Homo sapiens: one gene and its partners. The protein of the gene in region 3 purifies or fractionates together with the protein of the main gene of each other region. This does not show direct contact. Each region holds a gene or a part of one and is shown on either strand. Other genes may lie near its edges. The genes, in order: TRDN, VSIG4, RELL1 and CHIA.

Evidence for each region.
Region 1: the proteins of RELL1 (region 3) and TRDN purify together in Homo sapiens (co-immunoprecipitation; one large-scale study listed by IntAct). This does not show direct contact.
Region 2: the proteins of RELL1 (region 3) and VSIG4 purify together in Homo sapiens (co-immunoprecipitation; one large-scale study listed by IntAct). This does not show direct contact.
Region 4: the proteins of RELL1 (region 3) and CHIA purify together in Homo sapiens (co-immunoprecipitation; one large-scale study listed by IntAct). This does not show direct contact.

Annotation. Positions count from the first base shown.
Region 1 is NC_000006.12:123,628,657-123,635,320, reverse strand, and holds part of TRDN (triadin), read left to right. Parts: intron 1-6,664. UniProt on the Homo sapiens protein: Contributes to the regulation of lumenal Ca2+ release via the sarcoplasmic reticulum calcium release channels RYR1 and RYR2, a key step in triggering skeletal and heart muscle contraction.
Region 2 is NC_000023.11:66,028,241-66,034,904, forward strand, and holds part of VSIG4 (V-set and immunoglobulin domain-containing protein 4 isoform 1 precursor), read right to left. Parts: intron 5,591-6,664; coding exon 5,234-5,590; intron 4,510-5,233; coding exon 4,228-4,509; intron 1-4,227. UniProt on the Homo sapiens protein: Phagocytic receptor, strong negative regulator of T-cell proliferation and IL2 production. Potent inhibitor of the alternative complement pathway convertases.
Region 3 is NC_000004.12:37,650,041-37,656,704, forward strand, and holds part of RELL1 (RELT-like protein 1 precursor), read right to left. Parts: intron 1-6,664. UniProt on the Homo sapiens protein: Induces activation of MAPK14/p38 cascade, when overexpressed. Induces apoptosis, when overexpressed.
Region 4 is NC_000001.11:111,311,351-111,314,850, reverse strand, and holds part of CHIA (acidic mammalian chitinase isoform c precursor), read right to left. Parts: intron 3,163-3,500; coding exon 3,133-3,162; intron 2,662-3,132; coding exon 2,460-2,661; intron 312-2,459; coding exon 255-311; intron 1-254.

The DNA of each region.
Region 1 (6,664 bases), on a different chromosome or scaffold from region 3:
CTTTTCTGTGAGAGGATATCAGGTTTACTCTTTACCAATTTTAGTTCAGAATTTGCTAACTAAATATAAATAGCATTTTTCCTATTCCTTAGATATTCTGTGTCATGTTGCTTTTAGTTTGCCTTAAAGAAAGCTATGTATAAAAACTTCTTGTTTAGCTCTGCACAAGTTATTAAGATAGCTACGAGCGTCTTAATCTTCTGTTTCTCTACCTCTGTTCAGGGTTTGGGCTCCCAGGTGATTCAGGAGGTCAGTTGACTAAACCATCTTGGGCTTGCTTGTGGATTATGTTTTGTAGAACTTGCATTTGATTCAAAAGACTTTTTACAGGAAAATTCTTGATTATGAAATAGAGCTTTTGTTTCTGCCTTTGCTCTGCGGGGGTTTAAAAGGGCCTTGGAAGACCTTCTGGAGTTACCCATAAAAATAATTACATTAGTAATAAAATTAAAAAGTAGAAATACCATCTAATTCTTGGGTGATGGTCATTTTCCACTTCCGGGCCTTAACAGTTCATAGGATCTATGTTATCTGAACATCAATTATGCATTTTTTTTTGTTTTCTGGAATGATTTATTAATAATATTTCTCAAATGAAAATTAGACTGCCAACTCAAATGAACTCATCTTTTAAGGAAGCACAGTCATTCTTTGATGATATCCAAAGTTTTTTCACACTTTGTTACTACACAGTTTCATGTTATCTTTGCAATTCTCACCTTTTGTGCCCTAGCTACAATTGTCTTCCTCCAGTCTTTTATAAAAGGTATACCTTTGTACAGTGCCTTGGTACAGGCTATTTTCTGAGCCTGAAATAGTCTTATTTTATCTCATCTGCTATATTTTTTTCAACCATTTATTTATTTATTTTATTTTTTTTAGAGCAGAATTTTTCTCTGTCACCCATATTGGAATGCAGTGGCATGATCATAGCTCACTGCAGTCTCAAACTCCTGGGTTCCAGCAATCTTTCTACCTCAGCATCAGAAGTAGTTAGGACTACAGGTGTGCACCACCATGCCTGGCTAATTTTTTTTTTATTATTATTTTTGTAAAGACACGACCTCCTTATGTTGACCAGGCTGTACTTAACTACTGGCCTCAAGCCAAGATTCTCTTGCCTCTGCCTCCCAAAACATTGGGAATACAGGCAAGAACCATCACGCCTGGGGCTTGCAATCACTTTTGGACACATTACTGAAATGTAAGCACTCTATCAGTAGACCTATGCCACCTATCAATCAATTACCTTTTCCATCCATTTATCACGCACACACACAAAACAGTTTGTGGCACTTAAGAATATAAGAGATAACTCATTACCTTAGAAAGCTCTAGTTAACTGTTCTCATCTCAAGTTTTGGGAAGACAAGGCTCATACAGATTATATGACTGTCTCATGGTCATGGGAAATTAGGAGAGATCTGAGGATAAATTTCATGCCTCCCATGGCTCATCCCAGTGCTTATTCAACTACAGTGCATGTCGTGCCTATAACCTCACCTAGTTGCTCACATCAATTTCCACTGCAGGTTCCAAGCTGGCTTACTTCATCCAGTGGAAGAAAGGAAATAATGCTAAATACAGAATTGTGTTTCAGGTACAGAGTAATAGATAAATTAGAAATAGGACAAAGTTGAACTCCAAAGGATTTTAGGGTAATAACACCTTTGATTCTGGCAAAATAAATTAATAAAGATAATTATAACAGCAATGATAACATATTTATTCTGAAGACATAAGATGTCAAGCACTGTATTAAGCTTGATAAATATTCATTTAATCTTCAGGGCCACCAAATGAGAATAAAGGCTAATATTATTGCTGTTTAGAGAATAGGAAGCTGAAGTTGAGAGAGTTTAAAGAATGTGCTAGAATTCACACAACTGTATGTGATATAGCTAGGATTCATACCCATGCCTGACCACAGAGTCATATTGGATATGTCTTCTTACTGTGTGAGACTGTTAGGTTGGTCAATTAGGTTGTTATTGGAGCCTACACTAGGACCATGTTACATTTAGGTAGGTTGAATCAGGCCCAGACTGGATTACACTCAAACAGCACACAGGTTTAGGGCTATAAACAGTCCTTTATCTTCCTTGCAATGTAATGTATCCAAGTTGCTGGGAATCCCATATATAATTAACTTAGTATTTACTAGAACGCTTAGTTCAAGAAAGCTTTTTATTTAAAATGTTAGAAGAGCTTATATCCAACTCTCAACTTATAAACTATTACATAACCTCAGGCTTCAGGAGAAGAATTATTGCACTATGTGTGGAATTCTTTCCTTACCATTAGCCGAATCACGTTTCACTGCTTCTGTAACAATCAAACCTATGAGAAGATTTGATATTCAAAATTTAGAGCAAAAATGGTCATTTATATTCTACACACTGCATTACTCCCATAGAGTCTGCAGCACAAGATTACTCACTATTGCTCTCAAGAAAAAAAAAAAATCAAGAATTCACAGCCAGACTACTTAACAACTAGGCAAACAAGTTATATCATCTAGCATGACAGATGGTGAAATTATGAGGCGATCCAACCTATGTTTCTGCATTTACCTCATCAAAGCAAAGGGCAGCTGCCCTGGCTTAAGCGGGGATGAGCTGGGGGTACAAAGGGATGTAGCACTAGTTTCAAGCCCTGGTCACTTCCAGGAGATGTTCTTGATTTTCCTGATAAAGCAACATACCACATATATTATTTTTAGTCTTATAAGTACATTTTAAAACTGACATTAGAAAGCTAGCCTATTCAAAAGAGGAGTACCACGATGGTGAAAGGCACAGTTAAATGAAAAGATTTGTGCATGGTTTGTTTAAGTAGAAGACTGGATTTTTTCATTATGTAGCACTTGAGGGCAATGCACAGACCCATGGATAAAAGTCTGGAAGTCACAAAAAAGGCACACTATTGGCAAAATACAAGGCAAAACCCAACCAACCATTAAAATGATAGCTAGAACTGACTCTTCTGACTAGAAAGAAAGAAAAGAGAAAGCAAGAAAGGAGGGAAGGAAAAGGAAATACACAGCCTCCAATTTTTAAGAAATAGAGGGATGAGGAATATGCCAAAATCTACACCATAGTAGGCAGTAGGCTCTGGGAACCTCTACAGTACAAACAACCCAGTTACTTCAAATAAGTTCCTGGGAACAAGAACAAGAAAATCTGGAGAACAGATGAAAAGAAATGTAAAAAGTTAGCAACCCATCACAATGTATGGAATGGTTGGATCATGATTCAAACAAACAACCTTAAAAAATTCTGATGAAACAAGTGAAAATTTAATATACTCTGGATGTTAGATAACCTTAATGAATAATTATATTTTTAGTGGGATAACCGTATTGTGGTTGTCTTTTAAAATTACTTATTATTTGGAGATACACATTCAAATATTTATGAAGGAGGTGATGTGATATTTGAAATTTGCTTCTAAATAATATGCCCAAGAAGAAAGTAGTTGGGGTGTGGGTGGGGTAGGATTGGCCATTAGTTGATTATGTTGAGGCTGATAATGGGTACATTAAGTTTCATTATAATATTGTCTACTTTTGGGATTATTTAAGCTTCTTCACAATAAAGAGTTAAGAAAAAAAACAGAGTTGATGTTGTTAGTAGAGTAAATCTTTTAATAAGAATTTAATTTTCATAACATATATGGGTCAGTGAATTCTCTGGTCACCAAATTTATTCGTAAGTGCAAATTACTCTCTAAATTGAACAGTGTCTGTTGTTACTGAAATGAAAACCAAATATGCTCATATTAAGCAGAGTAGTCTGGAAATATACTTATGTTTGTAAAAGCAGACAAGGAAGTAATCATTTTTAATATCTATTATAATATGGGAATCTGGAGGTTAGTTTCATATTATTGGTAACATTAATTAGAGACATTAATTAGAAATAGTTTGTTTTTGAGATAGGTCATGGGAAAACCTGAGAACAATTTGAAAGCCTAAGAAGTCAACATGATGCAAGAAAAAATAGTTCTAAAAAGTGCTATGGCTTGGAACATTGCATTTATTGACAGGGTATTAAGTATGAAGCTTTTGTATGACTATCTCTTTGAAATATCACAAAAACTGTGAAAGGCAGGTATCACATAAACCTGATTAGTCTGACTCTGAAACTTCTTGTTATTCTTTACTGCTCAAGTTCACTTTAGGAAAATAGAAAAAAAAAAAAAAGCAGATTGTGAAAACCAGGAGAGTATAGTTCACTGAAAATCAGAGAGAAAATATAGTGCAGAGCTGGGAGAAAGAAGCATTAAGAAAAGAGAGTGTGATAGAGTAGTAAGTGCATGGAGTTTTACTTAAGTCAGAAATTGGGGTTCAGGCACTATCTCCACTACTCAACCACTCTTGGTCTGGGGAGGATGGGGCCTCAAAAGAAGGGTCATGAACTTGGTTAATTAAAAATAATATGGCCAGAGGAATTTTTAAAAATTTTACAAGATCATGCTATTTGGCAAATTAAGTTTATGTTTTTTAAATTGTTCAAATCATCCATGATACAAAATTTGCAGTGACAATGAGCAGAAAATATAGCTGTGTAGTGTCAGCCCTTGTTAGGTTCCGTTAAGAAGCTTTTTCTTGTAGTTTTTATTATTATTTGTAATAGGAACTATTTTTCTCCCCACCCCATAAGCACATAGTATCCATGAAAATGTTCCGTTTATGAGCTTAAATGTTTCTTATTTTTTTTCCTATTTATTTTTGGTTATCATTATGACTGTAATTTAAAATTCATGCTACTTTTACAATGCAAAAATGAATTGAGGCTATTCAGTTATTATACTAAAGGCTTAGGAATCCATAGAGACTTAAGGCCTCCAATACTGTTGGCATTAATTTTTAATCAGTTAACAATATTTAATATGAGAGAAACATAAAACAGTGCAACTAAGCAATTTTAAAATCATCTACATTGACCTTTGTGTTGAATATATCAATTTGAAAAGAAAATGGTTAAGATTTTCCAGTAAAGCTTTTGGTTTTATAGTTATGCTTAGTTGGAGCTTAAAGATAGTATTAAAACATTATTCTTTTCTTCTTTCAAACAAAAAGAAACCCGTTGGGGACATGTTTAATGTATTTTTAAAAAATACATATTATCTAATGTAACATATTTAAAAAGAACAAAGCAGGGGAAAAATCTTCATCTGGCAACTATGCATTAACATCATACAATAATGTCGACTTTACGGAGTTCAGGCTCCATTTTACTTAAAGTTCTAGGAAGATTTGTCAAGGTTAAGTTTTTGCTGTCTCCAGTTCCCACCTGCCCTGGATAATACGAATGACAGGCTTGGTTTTTTACAGAGAATACTTATTTGATTGTCATGTAAATATATATTACCCCTAGTGAGGGTTATGCAGAGACAGATGAACTTCCTGGTCCAAACAGATAGTAATTTTTATCTTCAAAGGAAACCAAAAAGAGTATCCTTGGCAAATGTGCAATGAATAAAGTCTTGCTCTGCTCTATACAAGTTAATGCTCTCTAAACATCAAACATCTCCACATCTCCATGCCTGAAGTGAAGCTGTCAAAGACACACAGAATTTACAATTGTGAGAGATTCTTTGGTATGTAAATGAGCTGTTTCCTCATAAACTGCAGACTCTATCTCACTTACAATGTACTTTAAATATTACATTTAAATATATGTGGTTTAGATATTTTCTAATTTGTTATCTGTGCCAGAAGCTAGGGCATGTGGTTTTCACCCAAACAAGTTAAAGACATGATATTTTGACCTATAAGAACAAAGATAATTTAAATGGAGCAACCTGTTCTTTATAGGGGAAACTTGGTTTCATTTAGACAGCATGAAGCTGGAACTCATTGTGACAAACCAGTTTTATCTTTGCTACGCATTTGCTGCATCATTCTCCCCTCCCTGACACAGGTTACTGAAGTGTTGAGAAAAACAAAAGAAGGAAAAACTCTTAGTATTTCAAACTTAGTTTTAATATGGTCTAGGGCATTAGTGAGCTCGTGGATGTGAGAGATTCAGTTTCCATTTATACAGACGTTCAAAATACATATTTAGCAAACTTTCCTTGGAAAATTGTCTGTTGCCTTTGAAAATAAAATTATCATGTGATTAGGGGAATTTTCTGTTTGAGGAAGACATTTAATATAATGTCAAGACAAAAATAAGAGATATGAAGTGGCACTTCTCTGACATTCACTGCTGGAGCTATTATTTTTGCCCATGGTTATTCTGATTTAACCTATATATTATTGACTAGGGGAAAAAGCGTACTGTAAAATCTGAAAGTTACTACAGTATAGTAAAATGCCAAGTTTGTGAATTTAAATCTGCAGAAATATTAGGCATTGCATTTAGAAAAAGGCAAGTTACCTCCATCTGAAATATAACAAAATTTTAGATTCTATGGTATTAATTATCATCCTAGATGTAGATTTATGAAGCAGTATGTCATGCCAGAGGTTTGGTTTTATTCAATATTTTAATACCTATTACGTACCAAATTGAATGCCTGACAATGTGGACACAAAAATGAATGATAAAAGGTCCCTGCTACATTGCAAAACAAAAAGAAAAGAGCAAAAAATAACAGTGAGAATAAAGACTGGACAGATTATAAAACATTTGATTCCAATTTGAATTGCAGCCAT
Region 2 (6,664 bases), on a different chromosome or scaffold from region 3:
ATGATGCTGGTAAGTCCTGTGTTGCTTGTTCATCTTTCATACATCAATCAAGGACAGAGTTTTTAACCCAGGATTAATAGATCTCGAAGGAACCTGTAGCTAGAGTTCAGAGAGTCAGTCAACTTGGATGGGAAAATATATTTTATTTTTACTAACTTCTAACTGAGACCTAGTAATTAATTCTCTTGAGAGAAACTTGGGAAGTATCATAAAGAAAGTGGCAATGGGTGACATCAGTGAAAATGGTGACATAATAACCTCCAGAAATTTACCCTTTAACAACATCAGTGAAATAATGCAAAATTTGACGTAATCAACTTTTTTTTTTTTTTTTTTTTTTTTTTAGAATTTTGCAAAATAGCCAAAGGTTTGCAGCACCTTAGACAGGATTTATGGAAGAAAAATATCCCAGTTTTGGTAAGAACAGCAAGCTTTGTGCTGTTTTAACTTCTCCTAGTCCCCTTACCCCTTCTACCTCAGAGGTAATCTTGAACATACAACCCCATTCCAGGTGCTGGAGTGAGCCCAACAAACTTCATTTTTGAATAATTGCCATTATTTGGCCTGTCTGGTGGTTCCCTGAAAGACCTGACTCAAAAGACTTGTTTTATTGGTCACCCAGTGCTAAGAGCCTCTCCCCAGGGATGGGGTAGCATTTGTCACACAGCTGCCTGAGGCAATGGATAATAGGCGAGAAAACAAAAAAAACTAACCAAAATAGCCTTAAAAATGGTTGAGGAATAAGATTTCCATAGGGATTTTGAAGAGTTCTGACACAGTTCTGGGAAACTAGGAGGCCACACACAAGCACAGGGCCATGTACCTGCTCAGAAAAGACATGAGAAAACCATAAGCTTCTCCCTCTTGCTAGCAGAGGAAACAGCATGCTCCGTTTTAGATGTGGCGAAACATATTAGTAGATAAGTCTGGATAGGTAGGCTGAAAACAGACTAAAAGGGTTTGGGCTTTGTTCTTTAGTTGGAAAGATCCATGGGGTGTAACAGAAGGTTACACCTTTTGAGAAAGGTTTACTTCCTTTTGAGAAAGGAAGCAAAAATTGTTCAGTCTATTTTTTTTGGAAATAATTCTGACAACAGTGTGGTAGGATTTTCAAAGGTAAGGCAATAGCATATTTTCCCCATTCATTAACAAATACAGTATTCATCTAGTGTCTAGTGTCTTCTTTGTGCCAGATACTTTGCTGGGCTCTGAAAAACAGCAATGAAGTAGACAGGTAGAATTCTGCACTCTTGAATTTTATAATCTAGTGACATAAAATATATACTCAATAAATATTGAATAAGTTGATGACTTCGTAAGAATGTATGAACATGGGGAGAACATTTAGAAGATGATTGAAATTGTTTTTTAAAAAAGAATATGAGACCATGAGGGTATAGGAAGAGAAAGAAAGAGCCTAATAAGGTATCTGATTCAGTAGGTGAATTCACAGCACTTGGTAATATTGATGATTATTTGACGATGCGAGGTAAAAGAGAAGGAGGAGTCAAAGGTACTGCTATGTTTTCTAACAGGTTTGAGGAACAGGTTTGGTGAGTAAAAGGTACGATCAGTTTTGAACACGCTGAAATTAGAAATGAAGCTGTCCAGAAGGTAACTAGACACTGGGATCTAGCAGTCAGGAAAAAATAAATACAGATAATATTATGGTTGGAGAGTCATCAGACTACAGGTGATATTTGAAGCCACAGAAGTAAATAAAATCTCCTGATAATATAGAAATACATGCAGAGATGAATAAGAATTGAGTCTTTGAGAACATTTACAATTAAGGAGTGAATGAAAAAAGAGCCAACAAAGGTGTCTCAGAAGGATCATTCAGGAAGGTCTTAGAAGAACCAAGATAAGTTGGTGTCATCAATAGCAGTGATTAAAAGAATATTGAGGTGGAAGAAATGGCCAACAGGATCCACTGCTACACAGATGTTGAGGAGGAAAAGTATGAATGGAGAGGTCTTGGGATTTGGTGATATGGAGGTTAATGATGACCCCAAATTACAAAGTTATGTTGTGGTGAATGAATTGAGAGGTTCAGCTGGTGGAAGCTACCTTCGTGAGAAGGTTGGTAGTGAACATAGGAGAGATGAGGTGGCAGATGGAGAGAAAGATTTTTGAAAAATAACATATATATATGTATGTATTAGGCTTGCATACTGACATATATACATATATTATACATGCATATCTATTTGGCTTAGGTAGAGGATAAAGGGTATTGCAGGGCATTGGAGTAGCTGATGTTAAGAGTTCAGGAGGAGGGGCTTGTTGTGGAGAGGAGCAAAGCATACCTTACTCTGAGCCAAGAGGAAATGGATAGGGAAATATCAAGGCAGAGAGGAGGGTAGTTGATAAAATTCACATATGAAGAGGGTCTGGACCTTCTTACAGAGGAAGGAAGTTACCTTATCTTTTAGGAGCAAGGCTGGGGGCCTGAAATAAGGTAGAAATGTGCTGAAAAGCTGCTATGAGGAATGAGACAAAGATAAGCAAATAGACACACGGCATGGGGTCAGGCAGTACATATCGCAGAGCATAAAATTCAAGTGGAGTCAATTCATATCTGTGTTTTGTTTTGTTCGTCAGCAAAGCTCAGCAGTCCAAGAACATGAGCAAAAGCAGGGCCTCCAGAGTCATTCTAGAACTAAAGAACAGTGCAGAGTGAGGTGGAAGGGTGAAAGGGCTGAGAGTTCCGTAGGGCAGAGGTGAAATAGGGGGTCAGACTCAGGGGACAAGGTTGGGTGGACAGGGAGGCAGGTAGAGGTAGCCAGGAAAGATTACGTTGGCTCACAGAGCAGGGAAGAGTGGAAGGCTGAGAATAACTTCCCTGAGCCTCAGTTTTCCTATCTGTCAGTAGGGGGCAATGGCGAGCACTGCTTAACAGCACTGTAATAAGCATTGACTGTGAGAAGGAATAAACAGGAGGGTTTACTGTGAGCAAGTTCTTGCCTAGGTGGTCTGAGAAGTAACTCACAGAAAGGCAAGAATGTTCAATTAGTCTCTTTATGAAGTATACATTCTTGGGCTTTCTGGTCACGCCCTGCCCTCTCTGCTTGACCAGACTGTCAGCTCTTAGAGAACTGGGACACTGTTCATATAACTTTCAGGGCGGACCACTCTTGTTCCTCCCAAAACTAACAAACCATGATCTACAGCACACACATCCTCACTACAGCTTAACTTTGGGAAACAAATTCCTCCAGGCAAACACAAGAGTCTCAAACCAACATCAGTCTCCTAGCCCAAATGGTAATAAGCCATTTGGGCTAGGTTTACGCCCTCTCCTTACACAGAACTATCCTCAGAAGACAATAATTTTCAGATGGTTCTGAGGGCAATTCCCTAAAATCAGTTAGTTTCCAACATGTTTTGGGCAATGGTAACCTTGTTGGGGTGTCTTTCTTTCCAAGGAGATCTCTTGAAAGCTAAGAAAACTCATCTGGACATATCACTGCTGGACTCTTCATTTAAGCCTCAGCTTACAGTCTTTATATGCATAGTTTGTAGTGCTCCCAGGACAGTGCTGTAAGAAATAGTCAGATCTTGATTAACAAGAGCCCATCTTAAAGGATACTTCAACCAGAACTTGTATTTGGGTTTACAATGAAGTGGGGGAGGGAAGTTAAAAGAAAGCATGTAGATATATTAGATCAAGCCTAATCAAACAAGCAAAACAATAACCAAACAAACAGAACACACAAACAAAAAACAACAGCTTTCAAAGGGTGCCCAGGATCTGATATAGATTCAACCATGAGAAACAATCAGACATAGTAGGAAGAGCATGAAATCTGAGTACAAATCCAGATTTATACTTCCTTGCTGTGAGACCATGGGCAAGTAGATTCCCCTTTCTGACTCTGTTTCCTCTTCTGTAAAGTAAGAGTAATGATAACTATCTCATGGGACAGTTGTGGGGATTCAATGAGAAAATGTGTGTCAAGTTATTGTACTTTGTATCTGGCAAATACAATGTGCTAGTAAATCTCTCTTTCCTTTACCGTCTTTATCTACTTAACCTATGGCATGATAGGCAATGTCTCTATCCCTGTTGTCCCCAGTCCAAGTTTTTTTTCTTTGTGATTGTACAACCATTGCCTGCTTGGGATCCTCCTCTCCCAATTCTTCTTTTGCATAAGGGCACCTTTTGAGGTATCTTTGTTTCAAGCTTGTGTGTTAAGATGCTCACCAGGAAAGAGGGCCGCTCACCTTTGACCACAAACTTCACAATGTCGCTGTGCTGCTCAGAGCCAACCTGGCCCTTGGCAGTGCAGAAATAGGAGCCTGAGTCGGCTATCACCGCAGGCTTGAAGAGTAAGGTACTTAGGGTTGCTACTTTGATGGGTTCCTGGTTATTAGTCTGTTGCTTATACCAAATATAACTGATGGGAGGAGAACCCCGAGCCTGGCATTGAAGGCTAATCCTCATTCCCTGGGGCACCGTGAAGCCATAACCGCTGCCAGTTGTCACTGTGGGCTTGGAGACAGAGACTGCAAAGAAAAGACAAGACAGGAAACTCTGGGCAGTCATAAGGATATGGGACCAAAAGGCTGAATCATTCTTGTTGGGCGTAAGGGCATGCATATATCTGCAACTGGAACTAAAGGGGGCTTCTGACTTTGGAGGAAATAAGAAGGAAAGGGCAATACAAATAAAATGGCTTCCTTTGAAGGTAGGTACTTTTTGGTATTACCCGGGGTTTTGGAATACTTGGAAGTAAAAATCAACTGACCTTTAAAATTAATGTAGTTTGTTCTGGGGCTCAAGTAGAGCTTTTGATTACCTGCAGTTGTGGATTATCAGGGCCAGACTTTTGTAAAATTGTCCAGCAAGCAAACTTATCCTGGCTAACCTCTGCCTCCCTTTCCCCAGAGCTTCTCTATCAGCATCTATCTACAAATTAAATGTACTCATTTTTGAGTTGTAAAGCCCAGAGCCCAAGGAGGGTAACTAGTCCATGGATACTGGCATTTCTGGGACACTCGAAGGGATAGAGATTTGCAGGTCAGGAACCCTTCCCAGCACTTCCTAAATTTAACTATGGGAATGCTGACCCTAAGAATCCTCTGCCTGTCCACTTCCTCTGATAAGCACATATACCTGTGGAGAGCCTCTGTATAAACGAAGGCCTCTGGATTTTTCAGGCTTTTCTAGAATTACATCCACTATTGATTCATTGATTATCAGTGCTTTCCTACCCCCATAGTGACTCACGTTTCTGGACACGGAGCTCAGTAATCTTATCTCTCACGACTTGGTTGCCATCAGGAGTCTGCCAGGTGACTTCACACGTGTAGTGGCTCCGGTCATCCATCTCCAGGGTGCTCAATTGGAGGGATACATCTCCTGGAACCTTGTGGCTCACATGCAGGCGGCCCTGGTACTTTGCCTGCTGGATATGGTCTCCAGAAGAGTCACGTAGAAAGATGGTGACAGGGTCTGAGCCACGTTGTACCAGCCACTTCACCAAGACTTGGGTGTAGCCTTGCAGGGGGTCATAGGTGCAGGGAAGATTCACATCCCCTTTCCAAGGTCCTGTTACACTCTCTGGCACTTCCAGGATGGGACGGCCTGAAGAGGCGGAACAGAGGAAAGAAGCAAACGTAGATGGCATACCTACTTGGCAACTAAGGTGACAGTGACAAACCTCAAAAGGTTTCTGAGAAATGCCACTCAACTTTCTTTCTATCACACTTTTGTGTACCTGTGCCCTTTTGCTCTTTGCCAGCCTTCTCATCAATCAGAACCAGTCTTCAGAATGAAAGCCTTTAACATTGTTTAGATCTTGTGAGTTTCAAGTCCTTTTTATGTTACTGTCTTGCTATGAAGGTGATCCTAGGTAAGTCACCTTCTTACCGTGGAAGATTCATTTACTTCATCTATAATGTGGAGAGTTTGGGTGGTAGGTGCTCTAGATATTCTATCAAATCTGTCATTCTGCAAATCCATGAAAAAATTTTCTTTTCACATTTTCCAAAAGAGATGTGGAAGCAAAAATGCTAAGCATTTGGGTCTGGACTATTTCATTTTGTGTAAATTTGCACCTGGAGAAAGGTGGAGGCTTTTGAGATCAGCAAGAAAGGGCCCTCTGCCCTGTTATCTTCTCTTGTTCCCTTAGAAATCCTCAGTGAGTGGGGTCCCAACCCTAAGATGTTCTCTGGAAGACAGGCAAAAGGAAATACTGAGGGTGGAACCAAGTGTGAGGAAGAAGTCTGGATACACATTCCTGTTTAACAAAATCATTAGCTATTGTTAAATTCAAAACCTGCACTTTGTAAACCTGACTTTTTTTCTGATTTCTTTTGTTTATTTTCCTTTTGGTTTCTCTTAGTTCTTAGCAAGGATACATAGGAAAATTTCATCTTGAGGGGGAAAAGATTGCATCCATTTTTGGTCTAGAGAGGAAAAGGTTCTGAGTGAAATCCTGAAGCTGGCTGTAGTAGGGGTGGTGATAGAAGCAATGGGAGATTGCTCCTTGGCGTGTTTGAGAAGGAAACCCTTGGGGATGGGGGTGGGGGTGGGGAAGGAGGTGGGGATGTTGAAACAGCCATTGCCTCCCATCAGAATTTTCCATCCATAAGCTCTTATTTAGAAGATTTTTTGTTTTATTTAGCTGGGGCCAGGAGTGTGGGGTGGGTATATTTA
Region 3 (6,664 bases):
AATACTACCTACTCACCCTTCTAGGATTGTTATAAAGATGAAATAAATTATTACGTGTAAACTAGCAAGCAACATAGCAAATATTCACCCACATGCCAGGCACCATTCTAGGCACTTGTGATGCAGGTTCATCACACTGAGCAAAACAGGCGGAGATTTGTTGTCCTCATGCAGCTTACATTCTAGGAGGATTTAGTAAACTAGCAGATCTAGAGTATGAAGAAGAGGGAAAAGTCAGGGATAGCATCAAGATCTTGGCCTGGGGTGCAAACATAAAAATGGAAGTGAGTGCACTTGTTTATTTGTTCACTAATCCCAATAAACATTGAATGCATGCCAGTTATGTGACAAGCACCACACTGGGTGGGAACTGGATAGAGTGATGAACAACGTAACGTAGCCCCTGCCATCTTGAGGCTCGTATATGATGGCATCAGAAACAGCCATTAAACAAGTATACACGGGCAGATCGTGACAGATTGTGAGAAATGCTGTGGAAGGAAAACACGGGGCACTAGAAGAGAAAAGAACAGTGGGGATCTACTTTATGACTTCAAGAATAGGGAAGCTTTGAAGTGGGCATCTTTTGGAGAAAAGGGAAGTTTTTGCCTTTAGACATGTCAAAGTATCACATGAATATATATATGAGAGACAGTTTGATATCTTAGCCTGCAGGGGTGCCACAGGGACTCCAGAAAGCAGTGAGCCTGGAGCACACAATTATACAATGTGGCCAACTGAGATCGCAGGAAGAACATACTTTGGGAGGCTGAAGGGGGTGGGGGGAGGGGGCGAATCACTTGAGGTCAGGAGTTCAAGACCAGCCTGGGCAACATGGTGAAACCCCGTCTCCACTAAAAATACAAAAATTAGCTGGGCATTGTGGTACACAACTGTGGTGCCAGCTACTGGAGAGGCAGAGGTGAGAGGATTGCTTGAGCCTGCGAGGCAGAGGTTGCAGTGAGCCAAGAAGTGCACCACTGCACTTCAGCCTGGGTGACAGAGCAAGACTGTCTCAAAAAAAAAAAAAAAAAAATTAAATTAAATTAAAAAGTATTAAAAAGTTAGCCTTATATATGTTCCTGTCACACAGTAAGCACTATAAATGTGTTAGCTACCACTATTAATATTTAGGCTGGGCACAGTGGCACATGCCTATAATCCCAACACTTTGGGAGGCCAAGGCAGGCGGATCACTTGAGGCCAGGAGTTCAGGAAGAACATACCGTGTAGCAAAAGAATCAGCAGAGCACCATGCCATGGAAAAATGAGGAGAGAAATACAAAATGAAGAGGGGAGTCAGGTAGATGAGGACCAAAGAAAACTGTGGGGTTTGACTGAAACAAAGCTTCAGTATTTGGAATATCCTGACTCTGAAAGGATAAAGTGAGGTTTTCTACATCAAGGGAGGTTCACACACACTGCTCAAGAAACCCAGAAATTGGAAAGCTAGAGACATTTAAATATAAGCTTTCTCAAGAGAATTTTGGTGAGAAAAGAATCCGTATTGTAATTGAGAGTGGCAGGAGGCAGTCAAATGCCCAGGCAGACAGGGTTGGGTCCCTGGTGAAACCCCACCTCCATGCTGAAGAATTTTAAAGCTTGAAAGCCAAGCTACAAGTTAAATCCTCGGACCAGATGGAGGACTTGTCTTCCTGTTTGGTGCGCTTTCCTCACAAACCAATCAGCACTCACTCCCCATTCTGAGTCCATAAAAGGCCCCAGACCCAGCCACACAGGAGGAACTTCAAGTAGAACCATTCCCCCGAGCCCCACATTGCCTCTCTGCTGAAAGCCATTTTCATAGCTCAATAAAATTCTTCTCCGCCCTCCTCACCCTTCAGTGTGTCGTGTATCCTCATTCTTCTTGGGTGCGCTACAAGAGCTTGGGAACTGCTGAAAGTGGGTACAAGCTATACCACAGGGGAGCTGAAGCACGCCAGCGTGGCCAAGCAGGGCGTCGAGGCTGGGGCAGAGCGTCGCCAGCCAGGAGGTCCCCAGTTTACAAAGTGACCGAGAAGAAAACTCCTGCATCATAATGATTATAATGGGGACAATATGCCTGGTATGAAATGAGCACGGTTCATCACAGCAGCAAACAAACAATATCAAACAGAAGCTTTATTTGCAAACCAGAGGCCATAGAACAAAGACTACCTCTCTTTCGCATGGAAATATCCATTGTCTTTGAACATGAAAGGAAATAATTGGTTTCTTAGGTTTGTAAGAGGTTGCATTCATTACTTTATCAGACAACCTCCAGAATTTGAAATAGCCAGTGTTTTCTGATTTCTCCCTGAAGAATCAATATAATAAATACATCCCTAAATATATGCAATATACCGTCTAAGTTAGGGTTTAACCTCATGCCTTATTTTCAGGAAAAACCAGAAACATTTATTTAATCCCTTTTATGGTCCTAAAACAATGTTTTCTTTATTAATTCCTTTATATAACACATATTCCACGCAACAAGAATAGGTGAAGTAGGCAGCATGCTGAGATCAAGGAGCTTTACTCAGAATCACTGTCTGTTTCAATCTGGGGGTGAAAATAAATTCTTTTTTAGGGGGACAATGGGAAAGAGGGATGAAAGAGGGGCTCAGAATTGGAGTCAAACACCTCCCTCTGAATCAGGTGATTGAGAAGGTGTCTTCATCGTGAATTTGACATGTGGCAACCCCTAACAAACACTAAATATCTACAGAGCTCTGTGACTTACAAACATGTGTCATTCACTTAATTTCATAATTATCGTGCCATGAAAAAACTGAAGATATTAATCTACATTAGTGAAGCATATAAATTACAGGGAGAGGCAATATAGCACTCAGATTAAAAGCTCAGACCTGGCAGAAATAACAGACATGTTATTGGCCACATACTAGACATGTCACCTTAGGCGAGTAATTTTAACTGTTCTGTACTCTGTTTCCTCTCTGTTAAAAGGATCAAAATGAGTGTGACTAATCTGTGATAATTTTACAAGATGGCCCTGGGAAATAAAAATCTAATCTCAGACCCCAATTTACTATGCCAAAAGGAAAAAATTAAACTGAAAGCTGAGTCATTCAAGAAATTGCGTTTCCTTTTGTTCTTAGGCAGATAGCTACTGATAAAAGGTGAAGTATCTGCACAGGTAGCTACTCCATGCTCACCTTATCTTAGGTAAAGTGCTGACTGACTGACATAATTGACTATTACCCTGCCCGCTCCTTTTCCCTTGCAACAGGTAGATTCAGTAATGTGAACATCTGCTCCCTCTTTCCCCTTGTATTGAAACCTCAATACAAGTATTGAAACCTCAATACAAGTATTGAAACCTCAATATTCAATACAAGTATTGAAACCTCAATATTCAATACAAGTATTGAAACCTCAATATTCAATACAAGTATTGAATACTCAATACAAGTATTGAGTATTGAAACCCTCAAAATCTTCTTAGGAAAATGGCATGAACCACAGATTGTTCCTGTGGATTTGAGATCCTTTTCTCTGGACATGTCCTTAACCTTTGCAAAATAAACTTCTAAATTGACTGAGACCCGTCTCAGATACTTTTTGGTTTCCAGCTTCAAAATTATTTGATACTGCTTCTACTGAGAGGTGAGGTCTGTATCTCGTCCCCTTACATTTACACTCTACTCTCCCTGACCCACAGAATGTGTTGGGAATGATGCATTATCACTTTCCAGCCTCAGGCAATAAGAAACTGACAACTTCCACTTCCTGTTTCTTGGGGCACTTGCTCTTGGAACCCAGCCACCATGCTGTGAGGAAGCCTAAGCTTCCCTGTGGAGAGAAAATAGCAGGCATCAACTTATCAGCCAGTAATAGCCATAATAAAAGTAGATCCTATAGTCCCAACTGATGCTCCATGGGGCATCAGAGCTGTCTCTGATGAACCCTGCCCAAATTGTATAACAAATCCTTAAACAAAAGAAATGATTGTTGTTTTCACCCACTAAGCTTTGGGGTTATTTGTCATACAGCAATAGTAACTGGAAGCCTGCTGCATGGTGTCACTGTGAAGATTAAACAATATTAATATGTAAAGCATTCAGAAGAGTGTCTACAAAAAGGTGGGCACTGTATTTTAGTCATAATCATAAAAGACCTGCATTATTCAGTAAGATAGCCACTAGCCACATGTAGCTATTTAAATTCAAATTTAAGCCAAATGAATTTAAATAAAATTAAAAATTCAGTTCCTCAGTTGCATTAGCCACATCTCAAGTGCCCAGTGGCCATGTGTGGCTAACTGCTACCATACTGGACGGCCCAGATAATGAACATTTCCACCATCCCAGAAAGTTTTTTTGGACAGCCCTGTTGTGCATTATAAAGAATAGCTAACAAGAAAGATGCAGAGTGGAGAATATATTGTGATCTACCTTAACAATTCAATGAAAAATAGCTTTTAAATAACAAAGTAACTGTTCATACATAATGTCTAAAACATTTATAAACTTCAGTAGGTTTAGCTTTCCTTCAATTTACACTAATAATTTGCTGAGAAACACTGTATCCCTTCTTCTCCTTCACCCCTAGCTGAATCATGTCTGAATCACGAACAAGTTACTTAGTCCAAATAGCAAAGGTTGTTGCATTATTTATAAAAGTCAAAAAATAGCAACACCTGCATATTTGCAATGAGATAGTAAAAACATATCTAAATCATGGTTTCATTTGATGAAATAATATGCACTATTTAAAGATCTATGAAATTTTTTGTGAAGATACAGGAAAACACTATGATCCAATATTGAATTTCAAAAGCTGGATTCAAAACCTTACATGCAATATGATCCAACTAGTTTTTTTAAAAAATAAAAACGCATGAAGGTATAAAGCCAAAACCAAAATGCTAAGTGATTCTCGGTACTAAAATAATGAAATAAATTTAATTTTATCTTTATACTTTTCTATAACTTTCTAAAATTAGTATGTGGTACTTTTGTACCAAGATGGTAGACACTTTAAAAAGTATGTAGAGCAGAGGCTGTTAGTCATTTGAGAGTCACAAACCCCTTTGTGAGGTCTGATGGATGCTAGGATTCCTATTTCAAAATTTTGCCTCCCGGTTCTGTGACTTCTTGAACCCAAATTAATGTAAGGGCAAGTGATGTAATAAAAATGACGTCCAAGTTTCTGCTTGAGCAACATAGTGGACATTGGACCCATTCATTGTGATGGGAAATATATATATATATATATAAAAAGCAAGTTTGCTTGGTGTTATGGTTTGAATTTTGTCACCCCCTCCTAAATTTATATGTTGAGCTCCTAACCCCCAATACCTCAGAATGTATTTGGAGATAGGATCTTTACATAGGTCATCTAGTTAAAATGAAGTCATCAGGGTGGACCCCAGTCCCATATGATTGGTGTCCTTCTGAAAAGGGGAAATGTGAAGAAAAAGGCAGAGATCTGGATGATGCTTCTTCTACAAGCTAAGGGACACCAAAGATTGCCAGCAAATCACCAGAACCCAGGAGAGAGGCATGAAACAGATTCTCTCATAGCCCTCAGAAGGAGGAAACTTTGCTGACACATTCCTCTTGGACTTCTCTGTTGCTGAAACCACCCTGTCTGTGGTACTTTGTGAGGCAGCTCTAGCAAACGAATTCACTTGGCATCTTGAGGACAATGTCACAGTTCAGTTTTGAACACGCAGAAATAGAGGTAAGCAGGTGACATCCAGATGGAAATAGGCATTGAGCAACTGGATCTGCTCCACTCAGAAGCTGAGGAAGAACAGCCAGAGCTCCAGTCTAGGACAGAAAGGAATGAGTTTCCAGAAGAGGTAAGTGGTCAGCTGGGTCAGATGCTGTAAGAGAGCACAACTAAAATACGAAGGAACTGCAAAATGGTGCCGCTGCTATGCTGGATAGTATTAAGCCTTCTCGAAAGGTTAAAAATAGAACTACCATGTGATCTAGAAATCCCACTTCTGGGTACATATCCAAAAAAAGAATTGAAATCAGGATCTTGAGGAGATACCTGCACTCCCATGTTGTCTGCAGCATTAGTTACAACAGCCAAGATGTGGAAGCCACCAAAATTCCCATCGATAGACAAAGGGATAAAGAAATCGTGGCATATGAAAATGGAATATTATTCAGCTTTATAAAGAAGAAAATCCTGCCAAATGTGACAACATGGGTAAACCCTGAGGACATTAGGCTAAATGAAATAAGCCAGACACCAAAGGACAAATACTATACAATTCTGTTTATATATGGTATCTAAAATAGTCAAACTCATAGAAACCAGAGAGTAGAATGGTGTTTGCCAGGGGCTGGGAGGGCAGGGGAATAGGGATAGTTGATGATCAACAGGCACAAAATATAAATTTTCAGTTACACGAGATTAATAAGTTCTAGAGATCTCACAATACTGTATTGTGCACTTAAAAATTTGTTCAGAGAGTAGACCTCATGTTAAGTGTTTTTACCATAATTTTTAAAAACAGAGAGAAGGAAAGAAACAAACAACCTGCTATAGTTTGAATATGATCTGTCCCCTCCAAAACACACGTTGAAATTTGGTCCCCAATGTAACAGTGTTGAGCTGTAGTGGGACCTTTAAGAAGTGCTTGGGTCTTGGGGACTCCACGCTCATAAAGGAGTTAACGTTGTTCTCACAGAAGTGAGTTAGT
Region 4 (3,500 bases), on a different chromosome or scaffold from region 3:
GGTTGTTTGGGAACCTCAGTAAGTAAACCTCTGTGGATAGGGCCCCCAAATGTCCACCAAATTAAATGTATGAAATAAATTGTGTTCCACTTAATAATGAGGTTCTGGTGTAGCAATATATTTAATTCATATATTTGTTTATGTACATCCTCAATACCCTGTCTTAGATTGTGAAGTCTAAAGGGACAGTGATCACATGGGGCTAACTTGTTTTCCATAGCAAACGAACAACATGCTCTCCATAGAAGACTTACGGGGCAGTCCCGAAGTTCCAGCCTCCAATGGCCAGGAGAGTTTTCAGCTGGCTGTTCCTGTAAAACAAAGGATAGAAACAGATAAACTTCAAAAGTCAGGACTCCCTCCATTTAAAATACATTGCTTTAGTGTTGGATCTGGTCAGATATTTTTGTTTTGCCTTTTGTAGAACAATTTTCCTCCCCTACTGAAAACTTCCTTTATAAAAATTCTTTGTGTTGTTCCTGTCATGAATGCACTCAGGGTTCCCTAGGGAAATCTAAATTTTGAAACTGGGCTTTAAAAAATATTGTGTGTTGGCAGTATCTTTGATTGTGTAAGTTTAAAAAACATGAATAGCTAATATAATATTCTATTCTATCAGATAAAATGGTAAATGTTGCTTGAGCTTAATTACATTTTTAGCCTCTGTAATGTTAAAATAAATTAATTGGCTTGAAATTATACACATTCTCTTGAATAGAGATTCCCAAACATTAACATACATAATAATTAAGTGCAAGGGTTGTGGGAGGACAACATGAAAAATCTGGGTTTATCGCCCCTTCCCCTGAGATTCCAATTCGGTTGGATTGCAGTAGGGACTAACACTTACTCAGGTACCTCACATGATTTTGAGGCAAGTAGTCAATGGAGCACACTTCAAGAAACACTGCCGTAAAGGAGTTTATTTACTCTTAGTCATTGTAACTTAAATTCTAGTAGCTGTATTCACGATAATGCCATTACTGATAGTAGCAATCACCTGTAGCTTTCCTTCTCTTAAATATGACTAAACTGAACAAAGTCAACTCAGAATGGATTAAAGATCTAAATTTATGACCTCAAATTGTAAAACTACTGAAAGAAAACCTTAAAAAAAAGCTCCAAGAGCTACAGCAAGAATTTTTTGGATATGACTGGAAAGTGCAGCAACAAAAGCAAAAATAGACAAATGGGATTACATCAGGCTAAAAAGCTTTTGCATGACAAAGGAAACAGAGTGAAGAGACTACCTATGGAATGGGAGAAAATAGTTGGAAACCATATGTCAAGTAAGGAGTTAGTTAGTATCAAAAATATATAGGAAATTTATACAACTCAGTAGTAAGAAACCAAATAACCTGATTAAAAAATGGGCCAAGGACTTGAAAAGACATTTCTCAAAAGAAGACATACCAATGGTCAACAAGTGTATAAAAAATGCTCAACATCACTAATCATCAGAGAAATACATATCAAAATCAAATGAGATACCACTCAATCCGCTTAGAATGGCTGTTATCAAAAAGATGAAAGGTAAGTGTTGGAAAAGACATGGAAAAAAAAGGAACTCTTGCCCACTGTTGGTGGGAATGAACATTAGTATACCCATTATGGAAAATAGTATAGATGTTCCTCAAAAAATCAAAGAAATAACTACCATATGATCCAGCAGTTACACTACTGGGTTTACATCCAAAGGAAATGAAATCAGTGTGTTGAAGAGATATCTGAATTTCCATGTTCATTGCAGCACTATTCACAGTAGCTAAGATGTGGAATCAATCTAAGTGCCCCTCAATGGATGAATGGACAAAGAAAATGTGGTCTTTATATACAATGAATACTATTAAGTCTTAAAAAAGAGGCAGAAATCCTGTCATTTGCAGCAATATGGATAAACCTGGAGGATATTATGTTAAGTGAGATAAACCAGGCACAGAAAGACATATACCACATGATCTCACTTATAAGTGGAATCTAAAAGAAGTTGAACTCATAGAAGTATATAGTAGAATGGTCGTTAGCAGAGGCTGGGGGTGGTGTGGGGATGGGGGTTGGGGGGCATGTTGGTCAAAGGATACAAAATTTCAGTTAGAAATGAGGAATAAGTTGCAGAGGTCTATTGTACAACATGGTTACTATTGTTAGTAACAATATATTGTATTTTGAAAATTGCAAACAGTACATTTTAAGTGTTCTCACCACAAAAAACATTAAGTATTTGTGGAAATGCATATGTTGATAGTTCGATTGAGCCATTCCGCACCGTATACATATTTCAAAACATTACATTGTCCATAGTAAACACATACAATTTTTGTCAGTTATAAAAGAAAAATGAAATGCAGAGTCTTGGTCCCCATCTCAGATCCATGGATCTGAACTACATTTTAAGAAGCATTAATGTTTGGGAAGTACTGAAAAAGGGGATGCCAAATTAAATATCTCCCTCATCCTACTTATTTTTCAGGCCATTGAAAGCTTGGTAGAGAGTCACATCATTCCATTCGATGGTGGTGATCTCGTTGTTCTGCCTCCCAGCAAAGGCGTAGATCAGGTGGGTACAGAGGCAGGGGTCGATGTTGTCAGGCATGAAGCGCCCCAGGCCTGGCCGGTACTGGGCCCAGTTGGTGAAGTAGCATGTCAGCTGGTAGGCAGAGCCTGTGTGTAGTCAGCAGGAGGGACAATGGCCTGGTTTAGGATCCACTGAAGTGTGCTGTGAGTTTTGGCCTTGCCTCTGTTTCCCTCCCTGTGCCTCAGATGCCTGATCTCTGTGTGGAGGTAATTAGTATGAACACTCTTGCAAATGCATCCTAAGATTCTAACTCAGAACTGGTCACTAACTTGGAGTTGTTTATTTTTAACTTTCACAGACTCATTTTGGGATTTTGGATAAGCCTAGCTAGCAGCCTTCTAAGAAAAGATGCCCATAGTCCTATGAAGCCCAGTGAGTACCAGTTTATAATTCAGATGGTCATGCTGAAGAGGATAGCAGTGACAGCCAATCCAAAACACTAGATTACTCCCAAATCAAACCCATCTGTCTGTGAAGCAAACAGCGGCTCTCTTTCCATAGTATGGTTTATCTCGTATATATACATTCAATGATAAAACATGGAGTCCATGACTTACCGAGCTGCAAATTCAGTATAAGGACAAGACCTGGATAGAAAGAAAAAGCATGTACTTTGAACCGATTGTCTGTACCCCGTAGAATCTAATTCTGAAGGATTGATTGCCTTCCAATTTGCCATAAATTGTTACAACCTCAGTGAGATTTGGTGGTGATTCCAAAGGCTTTTCAGTGAATACAACAGTAGATCTACCTTTCCCCACCTTTATCAAAAATGACCGTGGTACCTTCGTCTCACACCTTTCTTGTCACAAATAAATGTTCCTGAATGCTGAGTCCGAAGTTTACTATCTATGGAAGATGTACTTACTGAAATCACCAACTGATCACTGTAGTCAATGATGACACATCCATTCGTTCTTCCCCT